Regions from separate parts of the Homo sapiens genome. Here all the other regions are linked to region 2. Evidence: fine-mapped expression QTL. A gene starts in region 2. Each other region holds a variant in brackets. All regions are shown on one strand. Distances are from middle to middle.

Region 1 (8,186 bases), 760 kb after region 2:
ATAAAAACCCAAGAAGAGAGGGTTCAGTAAGCTTCCAGATAGCTGAACATGTATAGGGCAAGAGGAAGGTGAAGAAGAACTCTTCCATGTACAGGGAGGGTCGTGCACCCCATCTCCACAGGGTCAGAAGCTCCAGTGCTTGGGACCTTTCCAGACCTCACCCTATGTACCTCTTTATCTGGCTATTTATCTGTATCCTTTAAAATATCCTTCTTAGTAAACGTGTTTCTCTGAGTTCTGTGAACAGCCCCAACAAATTAATCGAACCCAAAGAGGGGGTTGTGGGAATCTCAACTTGATGTGTGTGTCAGAAGTTCCGGAAACCTGGGCTTGCAACTGGTGGGGAAAGGAGGGAGCAGTCTTGGGGAAGGAGCCCTCAACCTGTGGGATCTGGCACTACACCTCCAGGTAGATAGTGTCAGAATTGAACTGGAGGATACCTGGCTGGTGTCCACTGCTTGGTGGTGGGGAGAGACCCCCCCACACACATTTGGTCACAGGAGTTTTCTTTGCATAAATGACTGCTGTGGTGTGAGAGTAGAGGAAAAACACAGAGTTTTCCCCACACAATAAGAACTGAAATTAACAACAACCACATAACCCCATTAAAAAATGGGCAAAGGACATGAACAGACACTTCTCAAAAGACAAATATGTGGCCAACAAACATGAAAAAATGCTCAAAGTCAATAATCATTAGAGAAATGCAAATCAAAGCAACAATGAGATATCATCTCACACCAGTCAGAACATTATTAAAAAGTCAAAAAACAGCAGATGCTGGTGAGGGTGCAGAGAAAAGAGAATGCTTATACACTGCTGGTGGGAAAGTAAATTAGTACCGCCACTGAAGAAAGCAGTTTGGAGATTTCTCAAAGAACTACAATTTGACCCAGCAATCTATTACTGAGTTTGTATACCTAAAGGAATATAAATACCCAAAGGAGTGTAAATCATTCTATTATAAAGACACATGCACATATATGTTCATTGCAGCACTATTCATAATAGCAAAGACATGGAATCAACCTAAATGCCCAAGAATGATAGGCTGGATAAAGAAAATGTGGTACAGACAACACCACAGAATACTATGCAGCCATAAAAAAGAACAAGATCATGTCCTCTGCAGGAACATGGATGGAGCTGGAAGTCATCCTTAGCAAACACATACAGGAACAGAAAACGAAATACCACATGTTCTCACTTATAAGTGGAAGCTAAACATTAAGTACACATGGATACAAGGCAAATATAGATACGCAGGCCTACTTAGGGGTGGAGGATGGAAGGAGGGTGAGGATCAAAAAACTATTTATTGGGTACTATGCTTATCACCTGGGTGACTAATCTGTACGCCAAACCCCCATGACACATAATTTACCCATGTAACAAATGTGCCCATGTGCCCCCTAAGTCTAAAAACAAAAGTTGGAAAGAAAACAAAAAGAAAAAAACTATGCCAGGTGAACATTAACCAAAAGAAAACTAGCATGGCTAAATTAATCTCAAGGTAAATTTCACAACAAATAACATTATCTGCAATTAAAAAGATCATTTCATAATGATGAAGGGGTCAATTTATAAAGATGTAAAAATGCTAAATATTTATGTACCTAGTAAGACAGCTTCAAAACACATGAAGCTAAATATGATACAAATATAAGAAAAAACTGCTTTAATCCATGATTGTATTCAGATATTTCACTATCCCTCTCTGTTACTGACAGAACAAGTAAGCAAAAAATCAACAGACATGGAAACTTGAACACTGTCAACCAACCTGACCTAACTGACACTTGAAGAACACACTACTCAACAACAGCAGAATGCACTTTCTTTTCAAATATAAACAAAACATTTTCCAAGACGTATTTTGTCATAAAACAAGTCTCAATAAATAAATGAGGGTCATACAAAATGTTTCTTGAGCACAATGGAATAAAAATAGAAGTAACAGAAAGATCTCTGGAAAATCCTCCAGGAAGGGAAAAAAAGAAAGGAAATACTAAGCTAAATGCTCCAATGTCATAATATTTATATACCCATAAAAAAGTAAATACTGAAGATTTAACCAAAACTTCACTACAAATATGTTGGGGGGAATAGGAGAGGGTGGTATAAGAAAGCAAAGGCTTTATATATCACAACAAGGTAAAAAAAAAATGTGTACAACTGATAAATCAAAAAGTCAGCAATATATGTATATTAATCATAAATATGGAGAAGTATAAATTTAGATGAAACAGCAGACAGAATTCAGAGTCATTGTTTCCTCTTAATCACTGCATGTGGGGAAACTTGGAGTAGAAAGGGCAGGGCATTTTGTTACATGTAATATTTTGACTTTTCAAACTACATACATGTAGTACTTTAATAAAATACCTTTAAAGAGATTTCATCTATATCATCTAATTTTATTCCCAGGGAAGGAGGTATAGTAACCCCCAATTTGACAAATGAGGAAACTAATATTTCAGGTAAAGTAGCTTGTCCAAAATCTAAGCCACCACAACTTTTTAATTTAATCATATAAATAATATAAATTATGCCTGTTATGGCATCATCTACACAGATAAATATGAAAAGGAAAAAAATTAAATTGTTTTTAAATCTCAGTTTTATTTCTGGAAATATTTTTATTTTCTGCTCTCTACTATAGATGACTAGTTTACTGTCACAGAACAAGATGAAATATTCACACTTAACCTCCTGTTAACAGATTTTTAAAAGAAATTTGAACAAAGAAAGATTTTGGCAAGTGTAAAGAACAAAACTGTACTCAAAAGTAAACACTATTTTAATCATTATCTTTAACTGGGGTTAGGTGCACATAACATAAAATTTACCATCTTAACCGTTTTTAATCGTACAGTTCCAGTGGCATTAAGTACATTCACGTTGTTGTGCAACTACTGCCACTAACATCCATCTCCAGAGCTTTAACATCCATCTCCAGAGCTTTTTTTCATCTTCCCAAATTGACTTTCTTTATCCATTAAACAACTCTCCAGTTCCCCCACCCTCTAGCCCCTGGAAACCACCATTCTATTTGTCTCTATGAATATGACTACTGTAGGTACGTCACGTAAGCAGAATAAATAGTATTTGTTCTTTTTGTGACTGGCTTATTTCACTTAGCATAATGTTGTCAAGGTTCATTCACGCTATAGCAAAAACACTTGTTAAAAGCCAGTTTCCAAAACAGCATAAACATCAATTATTTGATAATGCTGTGAGAAATTAAGGCACTGGTGAATTCAAGGGAAATTAGTAAAAAAATTAATGCTTCCCTCTCCCCCAACCCTGATCAGGACACCAAAAAGGGGGAAAAAAATAGGTCACAATTTTAAACTATTGAGAAAGGGTATCCTGGTAACTTTACAGTGTGCATGAAGGAATGGGGGGAAAAATTGTAATTTTGTGTTTTGAAAAACCCAATTACTTTTCTAAGGTTGTTGCTCTTTTGAGCTGTGCGACAAAGGCCTATAGGGAAGGGCTTCTCTAAATGTAAACTAGGTCTGTGTTTTCCTTCTTAAGGGTGGAGCCATGCAAAAGACAAAAGCGCTAATAATGTCAGATGTTCACAAAACCTTGAGTCATGGTAAGTATCTTATAAATCAGAAGTGAAATAGCCTCCATTCAGTCACATAGAGATCAGGTAGGAAATACAAGACACTTGACCTTTACAGTGTACTTTGAAAAGGTTCCCTTGGTTGCAGTTTTTAAAAAACAGACTTGTATGCTTTTACATTCCCCATTATTCTCTCACTCTGAACCTCCACAATGAATACCCTGTATTTATGTCCATCTAAAATTCAGACAGAAGTCCTAGGCAGCCTTTCAATGGAGCCACTAAACAAACCACACCAACCCTTTAAGACACCAAAAACACCACTCTGATGTTAGGGTGGGGTTGTTTCTCTGAATTTTAATTTATAATGCAACTAGAATCACTGACCAAATTTTAACAAGAAGTGGTGACCAGCAGTGCCTCAGGTATCCAGGTGTCTGATAAGCACTCAAGCAAGAGCTGTGCTTTTCATAAACTCAGAGTATTGACACCAAAAAAGGAAAAAGTCTGCTAAAACAAAGTCAGGTATTTTATATGACAACTATATAAAACAGTGTTTTAGACAAGACATTCATTTTTGCTTTATAAAGATTAAACCATATGGTGTGTCCAAAAATAAATTACCACTGATAACTAAAATAAGACTATGTCGGCCGGGTGCCATGGCTCACACCTATAATCCTAACACTTTGGGAGGCCAAGGCAGGTGGATCACTGGAGTTCAGGAGTTCGAGACTAGACTAGCCAACATGGCAAAACCTCATCTCTACTAAAAATACAAAAATTAGCTGGGCATGGTGGTGCAGGGAGGCTGAAGCAGGAGAACTGTTTGAACCGGAGAGGCAGAGGTTGCAG[T/C]GAGCCAAGACTGCACCACTGCAATCCACCCTGGGAGACAGAGCGAGACTCTGTCTTGAAAAAAAGACTATGTCAATGATCTTCCAATGCAAAATTTCCCATTGTCCAAAATTATCTGCCTCCACGTGGTATTTTTCCAGAATACCATATAGTTTCCCCCAAGCCCTGAGACAGGAATAATACAGGGTGGTTGAAGGGGAAAAGAAAATTCCAGGCAGCAGTTTCACATGACTAGCAAAAAGGAAACTGTTGAAATACATACATAAGCTAGGAGCCAAGAAGACCCTGAAAAGCAGAGTGTGGGTTAAGCTAGCTAAGACGAAGTGGACCCAACATGGCACTGGATTTGACCTAGGTTTCACCTAGGACCTCATTATATGCTCATTAACATACTAAATCACACCCACCAATGCCAAGACAGTTCCGGGAGCACCCATACTGGTGTAAAAATGGGTGGCACTAAAGTTGAGAAATTTTCACCTTTTTCCAGAAATCTTCATGAATACTCCACCCCTTGATTAAAGAAACCCATACAGATAGAAGCCAAACCCTGTCTGGAGTATGCTCGCACTCCCCTTTCTTGAGCATGTACTTTTCATTTTGCAATAAATCTTAGTACATTTCACTATTTTCCAACTCATCCTTGAATTCCTACTGAAGACACTGTCAAGAGCCTGACCATTGATCAGAGTTGATGTCCCACTGGCATTTAGGGACCTCCCCCAGCCCACTGGTATCAGCCCAAAAGAAAAAATATTAAATACTTAGTATTGTCATTACTTAAGTTCTCAAATTGCTACCCAAGTTATATGAAGCACCTTTCTCCACGTGATATACGCTGTAGGTCAAAACACAAGACCTCAGTCATCACAAAAGAAAAACCGATTTAGTAGTTTTGCCTTTCCCATTCAATGAAGACAAATTTTGGCCTAAGGGAAGCATACACACAGTTTTTTCTCTTTTCTTTTTTTAGGCTCCTCCTCTTGTAGGGCCATGTAGGGATTTTGAGAAAAGAATTTTGTCTCTGTGATATTTTATAAACCCAGGCTACTTGATAGAGGGACACTATAAAAAAGATCCATTTCCACAGAGTATGTATCTTAGAACATGAAACACTTTATCATGGGTTTTTTAAAAATCTATAATAAAGATTTTCATCAAGTTTGGGGAAATTTCTTTAAGGTACTAATGATGCAGATAGTGTTTTTGGACGTTTTAGTTCTTCTTGTAATTGCTATATGGTATAAAATCTCATATAAAATCCAACTGTCATATTTAAATAAAAATTTTAATTAAAAATTATAATCAACACATCTAAATAACTGTATGCATGTGCATAAACCCACATACACACAAATACACAAAAATTTGACAACTGTATCAACTCTACAGAACAATGAATGTTTACCTGCAAGACTAACAGCACCTGAATTAAGAGATAGTAAACAGAAAAAGGCATACAATCCTAAAGCAGTATCTACAAATTAAAGGGTTGTTGCAACTTTGTTATAGATTTATTTCTAGTCTCATCTTCAAGATTACTAATATAGCATGTAACACTGGAAGGAGAAAGGAAACTGAGGTTGAAGTATGCAAATAAAAGATGAAATAATAAGCCACTTTACCCTCACCACTTCAGTTTACTTTGAAACTCATTAATTCAGTAGACATTTGGACTGAGTACCAGTGTTTTGGTAAGAAAAGGGCTCTAAAATTCTTTCCACTCAAATATTCTATGATCATCATTTACTAATATCACATGATTAATGGGATTCGCACTTCTAGAGTTCCTAAAAGCAAAACCAGTGTTTACAAATACTTATGATGCACACTGAGTAACAGGTATAGGAGAAATGAATAACCCAGCTTTCAGTTGCCATTGGAAGCCTGGGACCTGCATGAAAATAATTTTTGAGAAAGATTTCCTGACATTAATTTGTGCTTCAGGCATGGAAATTAACAGCTACTGGATCCTAAAACATATGAGTTAAGGAAAACACTGTCACTTTATGCAAAGCTGGAAAATACAGTGTTCTCTACAGATATCAAACATTTTTAAACAAAATTCAATCTCCTGGACTGTCAGTTTAGCTACAGGTTAAAACAGTGTTGAGGAGAAGATGGAAGCACATTTAAACTTTAATATCTTTACTCAGAAAACTGAACAATTTAAAGTACTAGCAATATGGAGGTTAATCTTCAAATCTGAAGTACAGGGCATTTAGTAATACTGTTACAATGATCGTCTCTTCAAACCAGCAGTAGGGCTTGCAAGACTTTCCCAGTACAATGTTAGAAATGCCTATGTTTAGTTTCACTTAGTCCAATTAACTGGCCTCCTCTACTACAGACATCATTTTTCTAGAAACCTTTTTTTTCAACATGATACTCCTACATACTTTTTAATTGAACTGTTCTACAGAAATGCATTCCTTTTGTTCTCTCTTGTTTGCATAGGTTAATACATGCTATAATGTTGTCTAAACCTGTCACCAAGTCTTTCTACGTCTAGCTTTCCCTTGGATGTCTTTATTTCAAAGTTTTTGATACAGTCCCACTTTTTCTTCAAAGTAAGTTTTATGTTTTCCTTATTCCAATGATGAATTACAGTTTATCTGCTATATCAGCTAAAAAGAGAACTCTATTTTTAGGGTAGATGCAAATACAATAACAGAAGTAACTGATGAAGTGTCTCTCTATGACGTGAATTAGTAAACTATTAGCCTATGGTCTATTCAGAAACATCTGTGCTATAAATATTTGGTGAAAGTGCAGCTAAACTTCCAAATAGCCTTAAGTCATTGATGGCTCAAAATTCAATTATCTGAAAATAATATTCCCACAAGATTGTAGAAGCTTACATTCACCTTCATAATTTTTAAGTATCTCTGGGGGAAGGAGTGTCACCACTAAATTGAAAACTTGGCTTGATATATTATAAAAATAAAAAGAGGCTGACATATCTATTGGTTTCATATACCCTCACCTTCCTAAACATGAACAAATTCAAAATTCAGCAGCAGCCATTGGTTCAATATTCATAAATTTACAGAATTTTGCTAACATGTCTCAAATGATCATGAAGGAAAAAAGTACATTTTTAATGACAAACTTTTAAATTTATTTAGTTACCTTAAGAAACTTGTAAAACCACATTTTATGGAGGTAAACTTTACCCTTCTTTTCAAAGAAAAAAAAATATATATATATGATCTTTTATAATGGCTCTTCTTTGTGAGTCAAAGGGTTAAAACCATCTCTTTTATTCCCAAATGAGTATCAGCACCATTCAGAGGTGCCATGTTTTATTTAAAACATACTCTTACTCAGTAACCACTTTGTTCTAATTGGCAAGGCAAAGCCAGGTCCCTAAAGCACACAGCCCATTACATTCAGTTTGGATTAAAAAACACAGGATGAAACAAACGGCATCGAAATGTACAAATTAACAGCTCAGGAGTATGGGACAGAGAGGTGGAATTAGATTGTAATATGGAACAAAACCCACAGGGAAGCTGGGGAACAAATCACTAGTGTCTCTATAAACTATACAAGGTTTCCAAATGAGCAAATACACAAAGCAAAGGACAGGCTTTTCCATAACTCAACCAAACTGATAAATATGGATACAACAAAACAGGAGTTTTTTTCCATACTATTATTATGCACACATGTATGAGAGAACGGGAGTACCAACTGGAAGGTTTAACAAATGAAATCTGCAGGTTGCACAGTCTAAATACGAAATTCATCTTTG
Region 2 (8,186 bases):
TTTCTTTCTTTCTTTCTTTCTTTCTTTCTTTCTTTCTTTCCTTCTTTCTTTCTTTCTTCCTTTCTTTCTTTCTCTCTCTCTTTCTTCCTTCCTTCCTTCCCTCCCTCCCTCCTTCCTTCCTTCCTCTTTCTTTCTTTCCTCCCTTCCTTTCCTTTCTTTCCTCCCTTCCTTTCCTTTCTTTCCTCCCTTCCTTTCCTTTCTTTCCTTTTTTTGAGACAGGGTCTCATTCTGTCGCCCAAGTAACGTGATCTCACCTCACTGCAACCTCCACCTCCCAGGTTCAAGTGATTCTCCTACCTTAGCCTCCTAAGTAGCTGGGATTACAGGCATGTGCCACCACACCTGGCTAATTTTTGTACTTTTAGTAGAGGTGGGGTTTCACTACGTAGGGCAGACTTGGAGCAATTTTTCATATGAATATATGCTATTTCTATTCTCTCTTTTGTAAATTGCCTATTCTTCTTTTTGGCCATTTTTTTCTATCGAGTTATGTGTCTCTTTCTCATTGATTTCTAACAGTTTTTACATATTCTGGATACTGAACCTTTGTTGGCTATGTGTGTTGCCCATACTTTCTCCTGGTCTATGGTTTAACTTTTTACCTTTTAGGGTGTGTTTTAGCTTTCTTTTATACTTCGTGCTTTTATATCTCATTAAGAAACTTCTTTCTTTCTTTCTTTCTTTTTTTTTGGAGATGGAGTCTTGCTCTGTCACCCAGGCTGGAGTGCAGTGGCACGATCTCGGCTCACTGCAACCCCTGCCTCCCAGGTTCAAACAATTCTCCTGCCTCAGCCTCCCGAGTAGCTGGGACTACAAGCACACGCCACCACGCCTGGCTAATTTTTTGAATTTTAGCAGAGACGAGGTTTCACTGTGTTGCCCAGGCTGGTCTCAAACTCCTGAACTCAGGCAATCCACCTGTCTCAGCCTTCCAAAGTGCTAGTGAGCCACCGCGCCCAGCCTTCATTAAGAAATTTCTACCATGAATTCACAAAGGCATTTTCTAATATTTTATTCTTCAAGGTTTTAAGTTTTGCCTTTTCACATTTATGTCTATAATCCTCTTGGACTTACGTTTTCCTTTATGGTATGAAATAGAGATCTTTTTTTATCACATACATAATCAATTGTCCTTACCCCATTCATTGAAAAAATAATCTTTTCCCCACTAGCAGTAAGATAACACATACCAAATTTATATATATATACACACACACAGAGACACAAACATGGTATGTGTGTATATTGGTTGCCTATTAATGCACAACAACTTATTCCAAAACTTAGCAGCTGAAAACAATAAACATTTATTATCTCACAGTTTCTGTGGTTTAAGAATCTGGGAATGGTCCAGCTAGGTAGTTCTGGATCAGGGTCTCTCACAAGACAGTGACTAAGAGGTTGGCCAAAGCAGCAGTCATTTTGAAGCTCTACTGAAAAAGGACCCACTTGCAATTTTACTGTGTAGCTGATGGCAGGTGTCTGGCCTTCACTGGCTGTTGACCAGAGACATTGGTTCCTTGCCACATGCATCTCTCCTTAGAGTTGCTCACAACGTGACAACTTGCTTACCCTCCAAGTGAGAGATCAAAGAAAGTGACAGAGCTCCCAAGATAAGAATCACAACATTTCATTCTCTAATCTCAGAAATGACATGAAGTGACACTTTATCATGTCTATCATGCTCTTTGTATCAGAAGTGAGCCACCAAATCCAGCCCATACTCAAGGTTAGGGAAGCAGACAAGACTGTGAAGACCCGGAGGTGGGGATCATTGGGGTTATCTTAGAGTGGTCTACTACAGTTTCCATTTGTTGATCTATGCCAGCCTCCCTACCATACTGTCTTTTTTTTTTTTTTCATCCTGTCTTAATTACTGTAGCTTGTACAAAGTCTTGTTATCCGGTAGAGAATGTTCCCCTACTTAATTATTATTCAGTATATCTTTCCTATTTGGGGCCCTAAAAATAGAATGTAGAATCTGCTTGTTCATTTTAATTGAAAACCCCTGGGCCAGGCACAGTGGTTCATACCTGTAATCACACTTTGGGGAGGCCAAAGTGCGAGGATCACTTGAGCTCAGGAGTTCAAGACCAGCCTGGGCAACATAGTGAGATGCTGTCTCTACAAAAACTAAAATAAAATAAATTATCTGGTTTTGGTGGTGCATGCCTATAGTCTTAGCTATTTGTGAGGCTGAGGTGGGTGGGTGGGTGGATTGCTGGAGCCTGAGAGGTTGAGGCTGCAGTGAGCTGAGACAGCACCACTGCACTCCACACTGGGCAACAGAGTGAGACCCTATCTTGAAAGAAAGAAAGAAGAAAGAAAAGAAAGAAAGAAGAAAGAAAGAAAGAAATAAAGAAAGAAACAAATAAAGAAAGAAGAAAGAAAGAAAGAAAGAAAGAAAGAAAGAAAGAAAGAAAGAAAGAAAGAAAGAAAGAAAGGACTCTGTTGGGATTTTTATTGGAATTTCATTACATGAACAGATTAATTAGTAAATGAATTGATATTTTATGATATTGAGTCTTCCTATTCATTTACATGCTTTATATCTCACATAGTCTGAGAAGCTCACCAGAAAGATTAGTGCAAAAGGGCTGGGAACAGTGGCTCATGCCTGTAATCCCAGCACTTTGGGAGGCCGAGGTGGGCGGATCACCTGAGGTCAGGAGTTTGAGACCAGCCTGGCCAACATGGTGAAACCGTGTCTCTACTAAAAATACAAAAATTAGCCAGCATGGTGGCAGGTGCCTGTAATCCCAGCTACTTGGGAGGCTCAGGCAGGAGAATCGCTTGAACCCAGGAGGTGGAGGTTGCAGTGAGCCAAGATCACACCACTGCATTCCAGCCTGGGCGACAGAGGAAGACTCCATCTAAAAAAGAAAATTAATGCAAAAGAAGACAATTTGGGGGTCTTTTCAATAATTCAGTGGTAACACACAGTATATGGAGAGTTTGTGTATTGCTCCAATTCCCGAGTTTAAAAGGTTTAAGGTCTAGTTCCATATAGAAGTCCTGCAGTTCTAATAGACTGTGTTTTGATGAAATATCCTCAGTAAGTTAGTATGAGGTATGCACAACATTTCTGCTGAAATCCTTATCCTGCCTATCATTTTGCAGTGGACATCCATGGTTCAGTTTGCCTGGCAATCCTCCCTTCTCATAAGAACATCATCGCTCTTCTTTTAGGGAACTAACAGATCCTCCCCAAACTCCAATCAGGTGGTCCTAATCCAGGTTGCCAATCGCAGTGCTTCAATCACAGGAGTAAGCACAGGTCCTAGGCCAGGCCAATCACAGCTCCTTCTTGGATTTTCCAATTTGATAAAATCCAGGCTGGCTGGATAAAATCCAGAGGGAGAGTTTACTCCCACTCCTAGTGAGAGAACAGCTGCCAAATTTCTAGTCTTATGGAGCTGGTGTCTGACAAACTGAAGCTGCGATGCAGAAAAAAGCTGAGATGAGAGACGGGGACATCTTGGTGGTGGCCAGGTGGCTAGTGCCATATACATCCCTGCCCAACCTCATTTTGGTTAGGTGAGCACCAGTCATTCCCATTTATTCTTTTAACAACAGGAAGTATTTAATGAGCATCTACTATTATGAGCCAATCATTGAAGACACAGTGATGACTAAGCCTTCCAGTGAACACAAAATATATATTAATGTAAAAAGTACTGCAAGTTATGGACATTTGGAACCTAAGTAGGCAAACCATGACTTAAATCTCATTTAGGCTGGGCACAGTGGCTACACCTGTAATCCCAGCACTTTGGGAGGCTGAGGCGGGAGGGTCACTTCAGCCCAGGAGTTGAGACCAGCCTGGGCAACATGGTGAAACCCCCATCTCAAAAAAATACAAAAATTAACTGGTCTTGGTTTTGCAGCCTGTAGTCTCAGCTAATCGGGAGGCTGAGGCCAGAGGACAGCTAGAGCCCCGGAAGTCGAGGCAGCAGTGACTGCAGTAAGCTGAGAGCACACCACTGCACTCCAGCCTGGGCGACAGAGCGAGACACTGTTAAAAAAATTAAAAAAAAAAAAAAAAGAAAGAAAGAAAGAAAAGAAAAAAGAAAAAGGAAAAGAAAACTTATTTAATTCTCAACAAATCCTGTTAGGAAGCTCAGAGAGGGTCAGTAATTATTGCAAGTTTCTAGCGCTAATATATAGCGGAACCAAGACTTGAACATAGGTTTTCGACTCAACAATTGTTTTAATTACTCTGCGCTGCGTAAACTGAGAAACCTCTGAATCCTTACAATTTTAAAAGAACAACTTACAGTTTTCAGTTTCCATCAGATTCCAATTTTCTACCAAATTGCAGCCCTGAGGTATGAATGGTTACCAAACTTTAGTTAAACAAACAAAATTAGCTCATTAAGTAACAGAGAAACCACTCTGCCCAGCCTGCATTTTTTTTTTTTTTTTTGTATGAGTTTGCCTCCTTTATGCGCAAGGCTCCTTGGGAGTTGTAGTCTGAGGCATAGTCCTGTGGGTGGAGGCGCTGACTCACTGGGACCCAATCAGCAGAGAGTCAACTTGCTCTCCGCGCAGCGATTGGCTGGAAGTCAGCGGTCTCCCGCCCGCGGCGCCATCGCGCCATTCCTAGTTAAGGCGGCACAGGGCCGAGGCGTAGTGTGGGTGACTCCTCCGTTCCTTGGGTCCCGTCGTCTGTGATACTGCAGCGCAGCCATGGCAGAACCGCAGCCCCCGTCCGGCGGCCTCACGGACGAGGCCGCCCTCAGTTGCTGCTCCGACGCGGACCCCAGTACCAAGGTGGGCACAGGACCGAAGGGAACGGCTCCCCCAGCTCCGCTGGGCCGGGACCGGGCCGCATTCTATCCAACCCCATCCCGCCGCCGCTGCAGGTCCGCCGGCCTCGGGCGGACGGGAGTGTGATGGGAAGAGGGATAATGGTGTTTGATGGGGCGATCGTGGGGCCCGCGAAGTGTGGAGGGGATCTGTTGCCTCAGCTAGTTTCAAAGACTGCGACCCTGTTTTGAATTGGCTTGTTTATGTTGCGACGGTGGCTGGAAGCCAGGCCAACCCAGGGTCAGCTTTCCCAAATCAGTCGCCAAGGCCCACGAGAACAGTAGTTTCAGAACTCCCAGAAATAGGTTCAAAGATGCCTGTCCTGTACCAGTCCTGCCCAGCCTCGTTTTTCCTTACCACCCTGACTGCAGTCTTAACTCCTGCAAACTAATTTGATCGCTCTAAGTTTAACCGCGCCCAGAATTTCACTTTTGCTTGCTTGGCCTTTGCTGTGGGTCACAACAGCCCTTCTTGCCTTCCTCATCTTCGTGGGGCCCAGGAGAGATTACAGAATCATAGAGTTTGGATCTGAAAGGAATCTTAGAAATTCCTTCTCTTACCCTCTCGTTTTACAGTAATGACCCAGTAAGAGAAATGACCTGTTGCATACAAAGGCTTTCACTTACCGAACATGTCTTTACTGGGTAAGAATCAGTGTAACTCACTCAGGTGTGGTGTTTCGGTTGCCTTGTTAAGATCAGACACAGTTGGCGGGCGCGGTGGCTCACGCCTGTAATCCCAGCACTTTGGGAGGCCAAGGCGGGCGGATCACGAGGTCAAGAGGTAGAGACCATCCTAACACGGTGAAACCCCGTCTCTACTAAAAATACAAAAAAATGAGCTGGGCGTGGTGGCGGGTGCCTGTAGTCCCAGCTACTCGGGAGGCTGAGGCAGGAGAATGGCATGAACCCGGGAGGCGGAGCTTGCAGTGAGCTGAGATCGTGCCACTGCACTCCAGCCTGGGCGACAGAGTGAGACTCTGTCTAAAAAAAAAAAAAAAAAAAAATTCAGGCACAGTAACCGCTGTTTATTCCAGTGAAGTCATCAGTGTCTGTAAACACCTTTGTATTTATTTATTTGACTACATCATTTGTAAATTCCTTGAAGATTGAATATGTGCTTCGTGCAGACCTTTAAAAGGGGTAGATAAGTGGTCCATGACTCTGGTCCCTGCTTGTTCTTTACCTTCAGGGCAAAGAGTCAGACACATCTCATTGCTAAAACTTTTGACTAGCACCTGGTACTTGGCTTAGGAAAAATGTTAGTCATTGCAAAATTAAGGGGGAAGGTAAAAAAATTCCGTCATGCCCATCTCACTTGTATATCCCTTAATATTAATACCTGGTTTTTTCATATAATGTAAATTGAGTCACTCAGTGTAAAGTATTTTCCCAGATAACTAGGGGTTTTATGTAATGGGGTTTTCAAATAAAAAGGATTCCAGGGATATCTTTATAAAATATACTAAGTAAATGTCCTTGCAGCTTAATTTACATTCCACAGTATCTAAATTTCTCTTGATGATTCGGAGTAATTAATTTTGAGATCAGTAATTTTTGGCCATGGGAGACATAAAATGGAATACATAATAATAGCTGGTATATATTGAGTGTGCCAGGCCCTGGCTTGGTATTTTAAGTACATTGTTTAATTTAATCCTAACAACAACCCTATGAAGAAGGCATAATTATGATCTTCATTTTACAAATAAGGACACTCAGGCACATAGAGGTGTTGAGTGATTTGCCCAGGGAGGACCCCACACTTCCAACCTCCACCCTGTTCTGCTTCTGGGGTGCTGACTCCAGCAGTAATTTTGGAATTTGCCATAAAGGAAAATAAAAAACCTCAATGAAGGCTGGGTGCAGTGGCTCATGCCTGTAATCCCAGCACTTTGGGAGAGCGAGGTGGGCAGATCACCTGAGGTTAGCAGTTCGAGACCAGCCTGGCCAACATGGCAAAACTCTGCTCTACTAAAAATACAAAAATTAGCTGGGCATGGTGGCGGGCACCTGTAATCCCAGCTACTTGGGAGGCTGAGGCAGGAAAATCACTTGAACCCATGAGGTGGAGGTTGCAGGGAGCCGAGATCATGCCACTGCATTCCAGCTTGGGTGACAGAGTGAGACTTTGTCCAAAAAAAAAAAAAAACCCTCAATGAATTAAATTCAGTTTGATCACTTGATACATTTATGCTATATGTAAAGAAGATGGTAAGTACTTTGGGGATACTGGGATAAACAAGATGAGGTTCCCTCCCTTCACCAACTTATATCAACTCTAATATACAATGGACCTGGGGTTAGTGTGCTATTGAAATATAAATCACCCTGAGAGCACCCTGGGAGGTAGAGGTTTTTAAAGGTAGCATTAGTGGAATGGGGTATGCACAGGGTATTTGGAGCCTGAAGACCTGCATTTGAATCCCCACTTCTGTTGTTGGCTGCAGTGACCTTGCCAGGGCACTTGGGCTCAGTTTGTAGAAGGAGCATAAAGATATCTCAGAGAGCTGCTATGAGGATAAAATGACATGTATTATGTTCTCTAAACTATGAAGAGTGATACAATTCAAGGTTGTATTTCAGCTGTGGGGATCAGGGCACACATCAAAAAGATGGTGGTGATGGGCCTATGCCTTGATAGATTGGGTAGGATTCCAGCAGAGTACATGGGAAGGCATTCTGATGAAGGAAACATCTTAGCAAAAATGTGTTTTGATACGGGGGGAACCCACCCCAATATTTCAACGTAGGTTCTTTCTATTTTCCATAAGTATTGGCCAGCTGAGAAATAAAGAGTACAAAGAGAGGAATTTTACAGCTGGGCTGCCGGGGGGTGACATCACATATCAGTAGGACTGTGATGCCCACCTGAGTCTTAGACCAGCAAGTTTTTATTAAGGGTTTCAAAAGGGGAGGGGGTGTAAGAACAGGGAGTAGGTACAAAGATCACATGCTTCAAAGGGCAAAAAGCAGAACTACTAATAAGGGTCTAACAAAGATCACAAGGCAAAGGGCAAAAGCAGAACTACTGATAAGGGTCCAACAAAGATCACAAGGCAAAGGGCAAAAGCAGAACTACTGATAAGGGTCTATGTTCAGCAGTGCACGTATTGTCTTGATAAACATCTTAAACAACAGAAAACAGGGTTCGAGAGCAGAGAAGCGGTCTGACCACAAATTTACTAGGGTGAAGTTTTTTCCCCACCCTAGTAAGCCTGAGGGTACTGCAGGAGACGAGGGCGTATCTCAGTCCTTATCTCAACCTCATAAGACAGACATTCCCAGAGCGGGCGTTTATAGACCTCCCCCCAGGAATGCGTTCCTTTCCCAGGGTATTAATATTAATATTCCTTGCTAGGAAAATAATTTAGCAAT
Region 3 (8,186 bases), 23 kb after region 2:
GATTTTTTAAGGTAGTTTTTAAAAATCTTTTTTGTTTTGTTTACTGACCAGTATAATTCAAACCAGATCTGCCTATGACTTCACATTTTTAATAATATATTGAAGTGTTTTTCATGCATCTTTTGATCTTTGTATTGTTCTTGGGCAAATGAGATGTGTTTTTTTTAGAGACAGGCTCTCTGAAGCCTCTAACTTCTAGGTAGTCTTCCTGCCTCAGCCTCCTGAGCACCTTGGACTACACATGTGTGCCACCACACCCAGCTAGTTTTTGTTTGTTTGTTTTTGGTAGAGGCATAGAGGCAAGGTCTCACTATGTTGCCCAGGCTGGTCTCAAACTCCTGGCCTCAAGTGATCCGCCCGCCTCGGCCTCCCAGACTGCTGGGATTATAAGCATGAGCCACCACGCCTGGCCCATTTGTCTTTTATTTTTATTTATTTATTTATTTATTTTTTGAGACAGAGTCTTGCTCTGTTGCCCAGGCTGGAGTGCAGTGGCGCGATCTCGGCTCACTGCAAGCTCTGCCTCCCGGATTCACTCCATTCTCCTGCCTCAGCCTCCCAAGTAGCTGGGACTACAGGCGCCCGCCACTACGCCCAGCTAATTTTTTGTATTTTTTGTAGAGACGGGGTTTCACCATGTTAGCCAGGATGGTCTCGATCTCCTGACCTCGTGATCTGTCTGCCTCGGCCGCCCAAAGTGCTGGGATTACAGGCGTGACCCACCACGCCCGGCCTCCATTTGTCTTTTAGATAAGAGAATATAAGACCCTGAAATTGTAAGATATTTGCCTGTTTGTCTCTAACTAATTTTTAGGTACTATAATTAGTCTTTCAGCATCCAAAATTTTGTTCTTTTATTATTTTGCTACATTTTGGATCCAGAAATGTGATATCATGTGTTCCTTTAAAAATTCTTCAAACCATTTTGTAATAATTAACATTCAAATTTGGTATTTTTATAACTTGAGCACTTAAAAATGTAGGCAATTTCTTTACATTGTTTATCTGCATACTTTAAAAGAGATTGATTTCAGAGTGTGTGATTTCGTGTGTCCCTTGATTCAAAATAAAGCTTTGGAATCAGGCAGGCTTAGATATGAGTCTGTGACTCTAAACAAGTAAGTGGCAGTTTCATCAATAGAATGGAGATGTTCACACCTAGCCCATGGAGCTGTTTTAAGGGTTTAAATGAAATATAAAGTACTTAGCACAATAAATGAGCATTATTATTATTCTTATTATTGTTCTTGTCCAGTACCTGTATTTACTGTCTCTTTAGTCTCGTTAAAATCATACTTTGGCCATTTGTCCTTTCTATAGTTGAAAACTTAATATTTTTGTAGCAGGGGTTAGGCCAATTATGTAAAGTAGCATATAAACGTGGTAAGATTTCAAAGATGTTACTTGCTTTTCAGAATATCTATTCCCTAGGACATTGTAGCTATGTTTTCCTTCCTTTTGTAGCAATTGGGGCACTGAAGATGATGAGACCCAGAGTTACCACAATGGCAATTCAGACCCTCGAGGATTCGGTAAGTTTGCCTGTTTTTATGTGATATATGTAGATTTGTGTGATTTTGTATTATGTATATAATTATGATTTTAATAAACCTAAAACATTAATGTCCTAATTAAGTATGATCAATTTATTAGAGATATGATTATTTTTATTTTCCACAAATAATCTTATTTAGGAGTTGTTTAATTTCAGAGTCTCGATCTAAAATTACACTTACCATCTCACCATGATTTACTTTTAAGTCTCAGAATTAATTTCCAGTAGACTTTTTTTTTTAAAAAAGCTGTAGTTAATACTAATCCCAGTTTCTGCTAGCACATACACTTCTGCCTTGATCTCCAGTCTCTCAATCAAGATGACAGTATTGCAGGCTTCAGCTGGCTGCTATAGTCAATGCCAACCACAAACCTATTAAGTATTAGTAAATGATTACTGTTTTTTGGTGTCGATTATTCTTAACTGATTAGACTGTATATGAGCTGATATTGATTAATTTTAAATAATTTATAATTCAAGGCAACTAATTAACTACTTATACCCAGCCCATTAGATCTATATTTGTTCTTTAATGTATTATAGATTTTGAACCTACCTAAGTCTGTTCCCAAGTGCCTTATGTTTTGAAATAAACAAGTTTTGGAATCTACTTGTGGTACTTGGACACCCTGTTATAATTATTTCTTCCTTCTCTCTGCTTTTTTCGGGGGGTATCACGTAAGGTCATATTGGAATTGCTGTTCCTGATGTATACAGTGCTTGTAAAAGGTTTGAAGAACTGGGAGTCAAATTTGTGAAGAAACCTGATGATGGTGAGTCTACTACTTACTGTGTTCAGGCCTGTCTTTAGTTGATATTTACTAACCACCTACAGAGGCCACTGTTGTAGTAAAACCCTTTTGGCTACAAGTAACAGAAGTCTCCACTTCAACCAGAGTTTTAAAAAAGAGAAATGATTGGAAGAATATCTGGGTATTTTAGGGAACTGAAAGACAGCAACTAGGGTGGCTTTCCAAGGCACTAGACACAGGACCTGGACAGCCATCAAAACCCTACGCTTCCTCTCCCACTGCCCGACCCCACCACTTTCTTTCATTGGCCACCAGCTTTCACTATTTCAGTGTATATCTTTCCGCCCAAAAATAAGTTCCTTAAAGTCCATTTTATCTGATGCTCATATAATGACACCAGCTCTCTTTAGTTTATAATCACATGGTATTTCTTTTTCATCTTTTATAACCTTTGTATGTCCTTAAGTTTTAGGTAGGTTTTTTGAAATAGCCTACGTATGGATTTTGCTGGGTTTACATGTATTGTTATTATTTTACTTAGATCTCTTTCTGAACTATTTCAAATTAAAATTGAAATATTAAATATTTCAGAGTCTCAATCTAAACATTTGAAATATTTCACTGTTTAATTTCAATCCTTTTTTAAAAAAATTAAAATACTTAATATCCAGTGCTGGGCGTGGTGGCTCACACCTGTCATCCCAACACTTTGGGAGGCCAAGGCGGGCGGATCACGAGGTCAGGAGATCCAGACCATCTGGGCTAACATGGTGAAACCCTGTCTCTACCAAAAATAGAAAAAATTAGCCAGGCATGGTGGTGGGCGCCTATAGTCCGCCTACTCAGGAGGCTGAGGCAGGAGAATTGCTTGAACCTGGGAGGTGGAGGTTGCAGTGAGCCAAGATCGCACCACTGCACTCCAGCCTGGGCGACAGAGTGAGACTCCGTCACAAAAATATATATATATTTAATATCCAAATCTTCTCCCCAATAAGAAAGGAATTTGCTTCACTCTGTCCTCATTGTGTCACTATTACCTAGAGTGGGATAGTATTGATTTTATTTTTTAAAGATAATAATAAATATATCACGGTGTTTGATCACTTTTTCTTCATATATCTCTTGTAGTGTCTCCTTTGAGACAGGATCTCACTCTCATCCAGGCTGGGGTGCTGCAATGGCACTGTCATAGCTCACTATAGCCTTGAAACTCCTGGGCTCAAACAATCCTCTGCCTCAGCCTCCTCCTAAGTAGCTAGGACCACAGGCACATGCCACCACACCCAGCTAATTGTTTTATTTTTTTGTAGAGATGAGTTCCTGCTATGTTGCCCAGGTTTGTCTCAAACTCCTGAGCTCAAGCGATTCTTTCACCTTGGCCTCCCAAAGCACTGGGATTACAGGCGTGAGCCACTATGCCCAGCCTTTTTAGCATCTTTTGGATTTTTCTGTTCTTTTATTTAAATACCTCAACCAAAATGGTCTTTAAAGGGGTTTTGTTTTTGTTTTTTGAGACGGAGTTTCGCTCTTGTTGCCCAGGTTGGAGTGCAATGGCACGGTCTTGGCTCACCGCAACCTCTGCCTCCTGGGTTCAAGTGATTCTCTTGCCTCAGCCTCCCGAGTAGCTGGGATTACAGGCATGCACCACCGTGCCTGGCTAATTTTGTATTTTTAGTAGAGACGGGGTTTCTCCATGTTGGTCAGGCTGGTCTCAAAATCCCAACCTCAGGTGATCCGCCTGCCTCAGCCTCCCAAAGTGCTGGGATTACAGCTATGAGCCACCGCACCCAGCCCTTTAAAGGGTTTTTAAGGCAAAACTTTTGAGATTCTGTGTAACTGAGGATGATGCCTTTATGTCTGAAGGACAGTTTTATGGAAAAGCCTAGGTTTAATTTCCTTCAGTCTTGAAAATACTCTTCTATTTTCTTTTTGCATATGATGTTGCTGTTGAAAAATCTGTCAATTCATGTTCCTTTGTATATTCTTCTGTTTTATTCTAGAAGCTTTTTATATTATTTCTTTGTCACTGCCTGCATTCTGGGAGATTTCCTCAAACTGGAATACCAATTAGCTAATTTTCTCCCAAATGTATCTGTTCTGATATTTAATTCATCTATTTTGTTCTTAAACACCTGTTATAATTTTGATCTCTAATTTTCGCTTAGTTTGCTTAATATGTTCTTGTTCTTTTTTTCATATTGGTAATATTTCATATTGTTTATTACTTTTTTTTTTTTTTGAGACAGAGTCTTGCTCTGTTGCCCAGGCTAGAGTGCAGTGGTGTGATCATAGCTCACTGCAACCTCAAACTCCTGGGATCAAACAATAATCCACCTCAGCCTCCTGAGTAGCTGGGACTACAGGCAAATGCCACCATGTATGGCTAATTTTTTATTTTTTGTAGAGACAGGGTCTTACTATGTATCTCAGGCTGGTCTCAAACTCCTGGCCTCAAGTGATCCTTCTGCCTCAGCCTCCCAAAGTATTGGGATTACAGATGTGAACCACCACACCC[G/A]GCCGGTCATTACTTTTACATGTCTAAATAGTCCTTGGGTCTGGGCATGGTGGCTCATGCCTGTAATTGCAGCACTTTGGGAGGCCGAGGCAGAGGATTGGGAGGTTCGGGAGGATCACTTGAGGCCAGCAGTTCAAGGCTGCAGTGAGCTATGATTGTGCCATTGCATTCCAGCCTGGGTGACATAGGAAGACCTTGTTTCTACAAAAAGGTTTTTTTTTAAATTATCTGGGCATGGTGGCACATGCCTGTAGTCTGTATGCCTAGCTACTCGGGAGGCTGAGGTGGGAGGATTGCTTGGGCCCAGGAGTTGGAGGCTGCAGTGAGCTATGATCCACTGTACTTCATTTCAGTATAAACGACAGAGCAAGACCCTGTCTCCAGAAAAAAAACAAAAATAGCTCTTGGTCCATTATTCTAATATTTCTTCTGTTTGAATCTACAGTCCATTGCTTTGGGGGTGTTTTATGGTTATGTTTCTCAAATTATTATTTTTTGCCTCTGAGCTTTTTTCCCCTGCAACTGTTCGCTATTCTAACACATCAAGCAGTGTGAATAGGAGAATGGCCAGATCCCTGTCCTTAACAACCCACATGATCTCAGGACAATGGGCTGGATAAGCCTAGGCCAGAGATTCCTAGGCACCTAGAAATGAGACTTAAATTTATTTCACCTTCCACAAAACACCTCTTCAGGTTGGATCTTCCCACTTCATCCCTCAGGGAAGAGTATTAGTAGGAGACACTTCCGATAGTGTTATTCCCTAGCCCTGGGCGTGGAGAGAGGGCTGGGGAGATCATTCGGCCCTACCAGTTTTTCTCAGTTTCTCACAAGCACAAGGCTCCTGCACTGCCCTTGTTTACTGGTAAGGACATCTGAACAAGCGAGAGGGCAGGTGCCGATGCACACAGCAGTGAGGGAGGAGCAAGAGCAAAACTCTGTTCTCTCGCAGCCATTATGCACTGCCTTCTGGTCCAGGCCAGAACTACCACCTCCCACACAGCCCAAGTTAAAACAGTCACCCGGCCCCATCCTCACCCATTCTCCCCAGCTGTCACCAGCCGGGTTTCTTTCTTTCTTTCCTTTTCTTTTCTTTTCTTTTCTTTTCCTTTTCTTTTCCTTCCTTCCTTCCTTCCTCTCTCTCCCTCCCTCCTTCCTTCCTTCTCTCTTTCTCTCTTTCTCTTTCTCTTTCTCTTTCTCTCTTTCTTTCTTTTTCCTGCATTTTCCATCTATGTTCCTCTAGGATTGATCTTGGAGAAAGGAGGCAGAGATAAGAGTCAAACCAATTCAACATAATGGTCCCCAAATAAATTTCTGAGGTCATATTTTTCCATTTAAGCAAACAGCTCTGACATACTAGACTCTCAATCTCAGTTTTGAATTCCTGGGAGAAAGACTCTCGCAGAGCTTGGGTTGCCTAGGATAGTATTTAAAAGGGTTTGTATGACCCAAGCATCTGGGTCTTTTGGTTGTGGGGGTAAGCCATGCTACCAGCTCCCTTCAGCACCTCCCTATTTTCTTTTTCTTCTTTAAAATAAGACAATTTCTGTAACTACTGAACTGGTAGTGTGGTATCATGAAGGTGAGGCAAATGCCTGATACCTAAAAGATGCAGCCAGTCCCACAGTTTATTTCAGGAGGGCTGGTATTTGCAATGTGTGCAAGATAACATTTTAGTCATTATGAAAAGTATGACTTTTCATACTTTTCTGACAATAAGAATTTTTAAAATTTAAAACTGTAAACAAAATAATGTACTTCATTAAAATGCAAAGTAAATCTTTAATTAATAAAAGTTTTTAAGGCCAGGTGCAGTGGTTTGTGCTTGTAATCCCACCACTTTGGGAGGCAAGGCAGGAGGATTGCTTGAGGCCAGGAGTTTGATAGCAGCCTGGGCAGTACATTGAGATCCCGCCTCTACAAAATCAAAAAATTAGCCAGGCAAGGTGGTGCGTGCCTGTCGCCCCAGCTACTTGGCAGGCTGAGCTCAGGAGGTCAAGCCTGCCTTGGGCCATGATCATCCCATGCACTCCAGCCTGACATTCAGAGCAAGACCTTGTCTCAAAGAAAGAAAAACATTTTTATGGTGTTTTCTTTTTTAGTCTTTTCAATAATGAAAATTTTCATTTTACAGGTAAAATGAAAGGCCTGGCATTTATTCAAGATCCTGATGGCTACTGGATTGAAATTTTGAATCCTAACAAAATGGCAACCTTAATGTAGTGCTGTGAGAATTCTCCTTTGAGATTTCAGAAGAAAGGAAACAATGTGATTCAAGATATTTACATACCAGAAGCATCTAGGACTGATGGATCACTGTCCCGATTCAAATTATTCTTCAGTCCATTTCCCCTTCCTATTTCAGCTGTTCCTTTTCACCTAACTGTTCAGTCATTCTGGTTTTCAAGCAGTGCTTTATCTCATGTCCTTGAATATAGTTGTGTAACTTTATTTTTTAGGTAATAATTAGAACAGTTCCCTTCAGAGGCTGCATTTGCCTTCTTCTGCCACCTAAATATTACTTCCCTTCAAATCTGCCTTTGAATCATCATTTTTAAAAAAAAATTAACATGTTTTTGTTGTAGTTATCTTCTGGGGTTTCAATTCCTCAGAAACAACTTTTTTCACAACGGAAAGGAAAGAACACTAGTGTTCTTTCAGTAAAGTACAAAGTGTTTATTTTACAAAAGAGTAGGTACTCTTGAGAGCAATTCAAATCATGCTGACAAGGATACTGATAGAAAAAGTGATTTCTTCTTATTATAAAGTACATTTAAAGTTCAAGGACTAACCTTATTTATTTGGGAAAGGGGAGGAGGAAGGAAATGATATGGTACCCAGACACTGGGCTAGGCTGCAACTTTATCTCATTTAATACTCCCAGCTGTCATGTGAGAAAGAAAGCAGGCTAGGCATGTGAAATCACTTTCATGGATTATTAATGGATTTAAGAGGGCATCAATCAGCTCAACTCAAGATTTCATAATCATTTTTAGTATTTAGATTGTGCCTCAAAGTTGTAGTACCTCACAATACCTCCACTGGTTTCCTGTTGTAAAAACCTTCAGTGAGTTTGACCATTGTGCTCTTGGCTCTTGGGCTGGAGTACCGTGGTGAGGGAGTAAACACTAGAAGTCTTTAGTACAAAACTGCTCTAGGGACACCTGGTGATTCCTACACAAGTGATGTTTATATTTCTCATAAAGAGTCTTCCCTATCCCAAGGTCTTCATGATGCCAGTAGCCATATATGATAAATTATGTTCAGTGATAACTTAGTTATCAGAAATCAGCTCAGTGGTCTTCCCCGCCATGATTCACATTTGATGAGTTTTTAAAAATCAAAGTGATTTTGAAAATCTCTA

The links.
Region 1: its variant is fine-mapped to the expression of GLO1 in testis (GTEx, PIP 0.99).
Region 3: its variant is fine-mapped to the expression of GLO1 in blood mononuclear cells (TOPMed, PIP 0.98).

What each region holds. Positions count from the first base shown.
Region 1 is chr6:37,941,714-37,949,899 of GRCh38, reverse strand. All of the region lies in intron 2 of ZFAND3 (zinc finger AN1-type containing 3), which reads right to left. Among named protein-coding and RNA genes, the nearest start is that of ZFAND3, 130 kb to the right of the region's middle. The variant T/C (reference allele first, on the strand shown) is at 4,430.
Region 2 is chr6:38,699,558-38,707,743 of GRCh38, reverse strand. It overlaps GLO1 (glyoxalase I), which reads left to right and starts at 4,599. Exons shown (of 6, transcript NM_006708.3): 1 at 4,599-4,773. The coding sequence starts at 4,690. RefSeq lists enhancers at 4,323-4,482, 4,663-4,762, 4,783-4,832, 4,865-5,457.
Region 3 is chr6:38,676,154-38,684,339 of GRCh38, reverse strand. GLO1 (glyoxalase I) reads left to right here. Exons shown (of 6, transcript NM_006708.3): 4 at 1,465-1,532; 5 at 2,239-2,328; 6 at 6,957-8,186. The coding sequence ends at 7,045. Among named protein-coding and RNA genes, the nearest start is that of GLO1, 23 kb to the left of the region's middle. RefSeq lists a silencer at 2,900-3,112. The variant G/A (reference allele first, on the strand shown) is at 4,823.